Homo sapiens: one gene and its partner. The protein of the gene in region 2 interacts with the protein of the main gene of each other region in a pairwise test. Each region holds a gene or a part of one and is shown on either strand. Other genes may lie near its edges.

Region 1 (4,613 bases), on a different chromosome or scaffold from region 2:
GAGGAAAGTATATGTGAATTTTATTCCGTACTTGGGAAGTTGTAAGAGCTCATCCTTACCAACCCTCTGATTTAAATAACTTACTTCAAATTTCTAGATAAAACACCAGTATCCATTCCTTGGGTAAAAGAACCAAAGGGCTGAGAATTAAAGTATAGTGCTTATATTAAGTCACATGACCATATGCATTAAGTTGAGGAATTGTTTACTTACCGCTTAATAATATGTTCAAAGATAAAAGCAGGCATGATTGTAATAGTAACTACAGTCCCAGATGTTGACAGTATGTCTGCAATTTGAGAGTCCTGATAAAAACACATATTAAAAATTAATTCCACAGAGGCTTTATTTAATAAATACAAAACTATGCCAGTCTTGGTAAAGAAATACAAAATATATGTCTTGGTATTTCTAATTTTTTCTAGTATTTCTTACCAAGTTTAATTGTACACTATTTTACAGCTAGTAACCAAATTGCTTAAGTAAACTGAGTTGAATATTTTAACCAAAAAAAAACTTTTCCTTTCTGAATATTAGATAATTTTCCCCATATACAATATTACCATCTCCTCTTATTAACTGTGTATTCTAAATCAAATTCTATGAAATGAGGAGGTCATGCTTAAAACTTTTTGACCTTAAGACAGACTTATTTAGGAATTTGTGGAGGAGAAAAACTATAAAAATAAAGTATTAATATGAACCAAAACTATTATTCATTTCCTTATATTCCTGGATTGAGAAATGCTGGGCCACTATTCATATTCTAAATCTTTGTTGCCCATATTTCCACAGAATTCTAGTGTGAGGTACTTCTGAGATCATTTATTCCAGCCCACTTGTTATAGGAACTGTAGTTCTAGATGACAGCCCAAATAATTCCGGTGACTGGCCAGACCAAGAGTTCAGGCCCCACGTTCCCCATCTCCCACCTAAGTCAATATGAAAACAGCGCCACCTAAATACAGTCAAAAGACAGACATTTTCTAAAACTGCAGCAGAACATGGCACAAAGTCTGTTCCTTACCTTCAATCCAATGACATTCTGTCCATTGATTTCACAGATGTTATGTTCCGTGAGAAGACCATTTCTGGCTGCAGAGCTATCTTTCACTATGGATGTTATTTTTCCATTTTTAAAGATAAAACCAACATGTCCAGTGCTATCCTTATGCATGGTAATCGTCCGTTCAAAGGGCCTACAAACATAATTGGTTCAATTAAAAACTTAATTCTAAGCTAAACATTTTAATGGATTTCATATAGCATAAATGTTGCCATATTGGATACTTTTATAATAAACACTGTTTCTAATAAGAGCAACTTATGGCTCTGATTTTATACATTCACGGAACATCTTTGTGTAAAAGTTTTTTTTAAGTTTATTCATTATGGTTTGACTGATTTACTAATCAACATTTCCTTCTTTAAGTATAAAAGACAACTGCTTTATATGGTTTTATCAATATGTTTTTCTTTTATAATTAGACTTTACAGCATTAAGAATGACATAGGCTTTTTAACTAAATCACAGTGGTAAAGATAATTTTTATTTTTTATTAACTTTTGGTATTTTCTAGAGCCAAATCATTTTTAGGACTATTTCTTTTATTTAAAACCTTTAAAATATTTCTCACATCTTGATTTTGAAAATTTTATACATTGCTATCTTTGAAAAGAAAAACTAGAGCAGCAGTAAGACTTAAGTTCCTCAAGCCCCTTTGGAAAGGGAGGCATGCAGCTATTATTAAAAGGCATCCAGCTGTCCCTCTAGAGTTGTTATAGCAGTCACATTTGCTTGATTCTCTATAAACTCTGTTATCATGTTATCATAAGGGTTTTAGGATCAACTTGTGTTTACATTATTAAATTCAGAAGAGGCATTTCTTCCTGTTAGTACAACTTACTCTTTGAAACTCTGCTTAGATAGAAAGTAAAAAGGACATTCATCTGAAACATTTACGAAATACCTAAACTGAATGAGAAACTGGAAACACAAAGATAAAACAGAAGTTTCACTGAGAAGGAACAAAAACTCAAAGCTTACTGTAACAATGCAATATACGTCTACCCTTAATTGGGTATGGAGTAGACAAGAAAATAAATGGAGGCCCCTATTTCATGTGCTAAATGTTTAAGTTCTAAATGAATGAGCTGCTAAATAGAATATTCCATGTTCTTGAAAACTACTGCTTCATAACTACCCAAAAGTCTTGATACGGTTTTCAGAACTCCCATACTACTTGGAAGTCTGCATGGGCTCTGACCCTCACAATGAGGGACCACTGTGTGTGAACACCCTAGGCTGGATGTATCTAAGCAGTAAGTTGGAAAGTGAGCCCAGAGATGCCCTGCAACTCAGTTACTTCTCCAACATACGTTTTCTATTTTCTAGAGAGATTTGTCCTATAAACTCTGAAATAAGGTATCGTATCAGAATGCTTTAAAAACAATGTAAGAAAAATCTGCACCACACAACTGCAAGACTATAAGGCTCATCAATAACATTTGATCATTTTCTGCAACAAAATAATATACTCACAAACTCTGAAAGCCCAAAAAAATGGAAAACTAGTATTGAATTTTCATTTGAGCTGTTTAGTAACAGCTTACCTGTCACGAATGGTCATGGTAATCTTCTCTCCAAAAGCCTGTTTGAGCACCTTGTGCGCTTTATCAGAGCTCCATCCTGCACAGTTTTCACCATTGATCTGAAGTACTTGGTCCCCAAATCTCAGACCAACCAATGAGGCTGGAGAATTAGCCTGGACTAGCTGAACAAATATACCCTAGATAATAAGAAAATAATTTTTGTCATTTACCACTACTATGATACGGTTTTAAACGCTGGAAAATTAGGAAACAACTGTTTATGTTGAAAACTCTACCCCAGTGACAAAAAAGAAAGAAAAAGAAAAAAAGGAAAAACTATATGAGTATATTAAGTTATCACCTCAAAAGAAACTGAAAAATTTATCAAGACAGCAACTCCAAAGAATAAGGCAAAAAAGTGAGATTTCAATGGCAATTTCTATACCAAATCATGACCCACCTGACCAACCACAATCCCCCCCTTCAACTTGGAATACAAAACTAAGGAAAATACAGTAGGACAACTTTAATAAATGCAAGCGTCTGAGTCTGATAGAATACCAAATTATCAGTACATAATCATATTTAGGGGAAAAGCGAGTCACATGTTAGAAAGTTTGATGAGTTCTTTTACAGCTTAATAAATGACAGTTTAAGGTCATAATTCTACCTTTTGAGCTGAAGCATTCCTTTACCCATTTGCTAAATTGTGTATAATCAAGTAAGATTAAAGTTTATTTGTTAGACTAAAAAGATGGGCATATTAAATCCACATGCACAGGCTTATAAAGAACACACAATGAAATAAATACAGAAAACTCAAATACTGTTAACCAATAACTACACTCACATGGATATTTTTACTTATGTAAAATCTCAATCAGAAGTTGAACAAAATATAAATAGGTAAGTATAAAAGAAGAATAAGCCTGGTAAAATATAAGTGCATCTACTTCTACAATCCTAAGCTAGGTCACATATTTCTATCACACATCTGTTACATTGTAGAATGATAAGCAAGAACTAGGTAGCACCCCATAAATGAACAAATGCCCTTTGGCCAAGTGAACAAATCCACTGCAACTATTACCTACAGTGGGGCCAAGGGGCCTATGAAAAGTATCTTTTCTCTTTAGGACAGAGGAAAGAACACAAGAGCAATCCTGGCGGAAGGAGCAGCAGTATACTCTATTCCCTGAAGATTCTGGAGAAAGGGCAGCAAAGTCAGAGCATCCCAACTAAGCACGCAGATGTATTTTGAGTGACATACAAGTGAGCAAGGCCATCATCGATGGCCTCAGCCCCCTGGGTGGGCAGGCAGGGCGGGGGCCTCCTGCCAAGATCAGCCTCCTCCATTTACAGCAGTGCACCACACTTATAATTTTCTATGTGGAAAGGCTGGATGCACTAAGCTAGAGATGTATGACTGAAACCGAATCCAATAAGGTAATGGCTAAAACTATAAATTGGGGTAAAGACTCAACATGTCCTTCACAATTATAAATGGTTCCTCAGAGAGTAACCCTGTTTCATATCTTCAGTATGTTAAGGTGAGAGGTAATTATAAAGTAAAGGCTGCCCTAATTAGAAAGAATATTCCATCTTTTTTTACTCAGAAAATGACATATTAAATTCAAATGTGAAGGATGTTAATAACAAATCTGCAAAAACCATCTCACCAGTTAAATACTGATCATTTGGTTTAAAAATGCACACACATCCGGGAGGCAGAGGTTGCAGTGAGTCAAGATCACACCACTGCACTGCAGCCTGGCGACAGAACGAGACTCCGTCTCAAAAAAAAAAAAAAAAAGGCACACTGACATTGACTCTCATTGGAAAGTTTTTTCTTAACCTTCACATCTGCTCTATTTAATTGCCACAATTCTATTATACAAACTATAATATATGTAGGCCAGTGAAATGTATTCCAGTTAGAATATTCAGAAAAGAAACATCTTTCAAAGTAATGTGGTCAGAAGTCCCAACTATGCCTCTGCAAAATAGAACATCCCCAATTG
Region 2 (4,388 bases):
GTTGTGCACATGTACCCTAAAACTTAAAGTATAATAATAAAAAAAAGAAAAGTACCTGGAACAATTAATATTTGTTGAATCAATGAATGAATTAATTTTAAAAAAAGCATAGAATGGGCTGGGTGCAGTGGCTCATGCCTGTAATCCTAGCACCTTGGGAGGCTGAGATGGGCAGATCACTTGAGGCCAGGTTTCGAGACCAGCCTGGACAACATGGCAAAACCCCATCTCCACTAAAAATGCAAAAATTAGCAGCGTGATGGCACCTGTGGTGCACCTGTAATCCCAGCTACTTGGGAGGCTGAAGCACAAGGATCGCTTGAACTGGGGTGAGCTGGAGGTTGCAGTGACTTGTGATCGTGACACTGCACTCTAGCCTGGGCAACAGAGCAAGATTCTGTCTTAAAAAAATAAAATAAAAAGCATAGAATGTGCAAGTCATATCTGGAGACAACAGTCTTAAAGGGACTGCTACTGAAGCTCCAAATTATTGTTATCAGGCCAATCCTATCTAGGAACTACCTTTATTATATATATTGGATATACCACCCTACGTGCATATATATATATATATATATATATATATATATATATACCATATATATATGGTATATATACCATATATATATGGTATATATACCATATATGGTATATATACCACATATATATATATATACTATATATGGTATATATATATATGGGGTATATATATATGAATAGGGGTGTATATGTAATATGTGTAATGTGTATAATGTGTATTATATGTATAATGGGAGATTACAAAGTGTGTGTGTGTAGGTATATATACCCCCTACCAACACACACACACACACACAGGTATAATGTGCATTACATGTATAATGGGAGATTTTAAAGTGTGTGTGTATTTTAATGTGTGTGTAAAATACACACACACACATTAAAATCTCCCATTAGTTCTGCCTTTTCGTTGAAGGCTGATGATACAGATTTCAACATTGAGATCGGGTTCCCACTACACCAGGGGCTAAGGAAGAGTATGTGTGATATGTCTAGAGAGCTTCTTAGTCCTCCCGTGTTTTTCGATTAGAGTTAATGGAAGATCACAGCAACCCCATCCAGGCAGGACATCTAATGTTTCAGACTCTTCCGTAATGAAGGTTTGAGTCATCCTGCCAGGCCAAGCATCATGACCAACTGACATGCTATCTCAGGGCAAAGGGAATGTGAAATGGGTAGCGAAAGAACGTAGTGATAAATACCAGCTACAACACTGTGAGCTGCTGCAGAAACCACGACTGTAATAGTATTTACCTAATGGGTTAATAATATCTACCAGCACAGGTGGGAATACAAAATAACCAAAACACAAGTTATCCTTTCAAATAAAATGCTTTGGGAAAAAGAACATCTTTTACTAACAGAAATTTCTTAGCCTCTGGAAGGCTATTTGATTCGGTAACATATGCCAGGAGACTTCAGCAATATCCTGCTCCATTGTAGAAAACAGCAATCTGATCCTTTTCTCTCCTCAATCATTAACGAGATTATGCATTTGGGGTGTGATAATCCTCCAGGGACAAGTATTCTCAAATCATACGTTTCAGTTTCTTCTTAAGGTGCTTAACAAAGTCTCGTCTCATACATCTGAAAAGAAAGAGACATGTCATTAACCAAAAGATAGCTAAAGAACCTATGCTGTAGGAAGCACTGTGATGGATAGAAAGATGAAGTAACAGTCAGCATGGAAATAGAAATGTATCTGCATGGTAAGAGGCAGTCTAGCCGGCATAACAAATGCTGGCAAGGGTGTGGAGAAAAGGGAACCTTCATACACTGTTGGTGAGAATATAAATTACTACAACAACTAACTATGAAGAACAGTTTGGAGGTTCCTCAAACAACTAAAAATGGAGCTATCATATGATCCAGCAATCCCACTGCTGGGTATATACCCAAGAGAAAGGAAGTCAGTGTACCGAACAGATATCTGCACTCCCATGTTTGTTGCAGCACCATCCACAGTAGCCAAGATTTGGAAGCAACCTAAGTGTCCACTAACACATGAATGGGTAAAGAAAATATGGTACATATACACCACAGAGTACTGTTTAGCCATAAAAAAAAGAATGAGATTCAGTCATTTGCAACAACACGGATAGAACCGAAGGTCCTTATGTTAAGTGAAATAAGCCAGGCACAGAAAGACAAACTTCACATGTTCTCACTTATTTTTGGGAGTAAAAGTGTAAAACAACTGAACTAATGGAGATAGAGAGTAGAATGACAGTTACCAGAGGCTACAAAGGTTAGTGGGGGTGGAGGGTGTGGGAAGTGGGGATGATTAATACGTAGAAGTATGGAATAAATAAGATGTCGTATTTCATAGCCAAACAGGGTGACTATAGTCGGTAATAATTTAATTGCACATTTAAAAATAATGAAGAGTATAATTGTATTCTCTGTAACGCAAAGGATAAAAGCTTGAGGTGATAGAAACCCCACTTACCTTGATGTGATTATTACACATTGTTGTCTGTATCACAATATCTCATATAGCCCAGAAATATATGCATCTGCTATGTGCCTACACAAATTTTTTAAAAAGAGGTAGTCTAGCAAATACAAAGAGTGTCAATTGAGGGACAATGCGCACCTCAGACTATGGTGAAAATGGAAGTCTCCATAGTCTTCGAAGAATGAGTTACACTCAGATAACATTAGCCTAAGTAACTGTGGAGACAGCCATAACTGTGAGTGAGGACCAGGGTTTGAGAAACGCAAGGCAGGGGCTGTTCCCCAACGCTCACCCCCAGTGCTCTATTGAGCCCAAGTGCTTAAAGAAATTGGACAGTTCCTATTTCTACCCACCTTGCTGCTTCCTTGATGATGGATTCAAAAAATCGCTTCCTGACTGCAGTAGGTCCTTGCACTCCTTCAAGCATTTCGAAGATTTTTTCATATTCTGAAGATGTTGAAAAAAAAAAACTTCAGTATTATCAAATATAAAGAAGAATAGAAGTGAATCTACACCTCAGCAATCATGCTTCAGAGGCTGAAATGTTTTAAATGCTTAAATCAAGATACCTGCACATACAAAACCTAAATAATAAAAAAGACACCTGCACATACATACGAATGTAACTCCTTTAACCATAACCAAGTAAGAAAAGAAAAAGAAAAAATGTACATGCTTTAGTCAAAGAAAAGAGGAACCACCATAAATTATGTGCAATCTCAACTCTGGCAAAGAATGAAACTCAACAGGCAACATGAATATCTTCTGAATCATAGAAAGAGAGACTTCCTATAGTTTTATAAAACAGACATTCTTATATTACTTACTTTGTCCAACGCATCGGAGTTCCTTCACTAATTTACGTTTTATATCAGCATTAATTTCTCGTTGGCTTTTGGGAGAGGAGGCTGTTTCTCTGCATTCTAGGTCATCTCCAGAGAAACTGCTGGTAACGTTTCCTCCCACAGGTGCATTGCTACCAGGTTTCTGCATCATCCTATCTTTGCTGAAACCAGTGAAGTCATCAATCTGAGAATCCAATTGGCTGGGTGGAATAGCATGTCCTGTCATAAGCTCTGGTGAAACAGATTTTGAGTAAAAGCCATCAGTTGGTGTTTGACCACTTTCTTTCCCCTCCACATAGACCTCATGAATGACAGCTCTGGAAATCAAACTGAGAAGCTGAGCTGTGAGATATGTGTGTTTCATCACCCCTCTGGGTACATCTATGTGCTCCTCAGTTTCTAGGGAATTATTTATTTCATAAATGGGAGGATACACCAGGGAGAAATCCCAGGCCTGACAAACGGAGGCCAGGACACATAATACAATAAAACCACCTCTTATTTTCTGGCCCTATGAATAGACATGGAAACCAAGTAAGGCAGTACAACTCTAAAGCAACATTCACAGATCCCTGGTACTCATGGGACAGTTTCAGCTTGTTATGCTTTACAAGTTGAAAGCAGCAAGTCTCACTTGATATCATGATTTCTCAAACTCACTTACAAACTGCCATGCTTTACTGAGCTGGAACCCAGGCAACTGGGATACAACTCAACCGGTCTCCTGTTATATCAAACACATTCTGAGAAAATAGAGGCGGCCATTACTGCTAAAAGTTCTATACGCACTCCACCACCAAAAAGTCCCTTTTACTGTATGATTTTCCTCATCCTTCCTTTCTGTCTCACAAAAGTGACTTTCTTTTCACTCCAGGTCTGACACCTCTCATTTATTCATCGTCTGTGGCAGGCAGCGTGCCGGTAGCTGGGGATCAGCAGTAAACAGCCCAGAGAGCAACGTTCCCTGCCCTTGTGGAGCTCACATCCTCATGGGGCGGTCAGACAGTACGTGCACAATGAGCAAATGAAACATACAGTGTTGGGCT

Evidence for each region. The genes of interacting proteins can lie anywhere in the genome.
Region 1: the proteins of CT45A3 (region 2) and SDCBP interact in binary tests that used the Homo sapiens proteins (3 or more experiments, as listed by UniProt).

What each region holds. Positions count from the first base shown.
Region 1 is NC_000008.11:58,576,209-58,580,821, reverse strand, and holds part of SDCBP (syntenin-1), read right to left. Parts: intron 2,790-4,613; coding exon 2,614-2,789; intron 1,200-2,613; coding exon 1,028-1,199; intron 306-1,027; coding exon 214-305; intron 1-213. UniProt on the Homo sapiens protein: Multifunctional adapter protein involved in diverse array of functions including trafficking of transmembrane proteins, neuro and immunomodulation, exosome biogenesis, and tumorigenesis.
Region 2 is NC_000023.11:135,758,784-135,763,171, forward strand, and holds the end of CT45A3 (cancer/testis antigen family 45 member A3), read right to left. Parts: intron 3,574-4,388; coding exon 3,325-3,573; intron 2,945-3,324; coding exon 2,851-2,944; intron 1,627-2,850; coding exon 1,569-1,626; 3' UTR 1,261-1,568; downstream 1-1,260.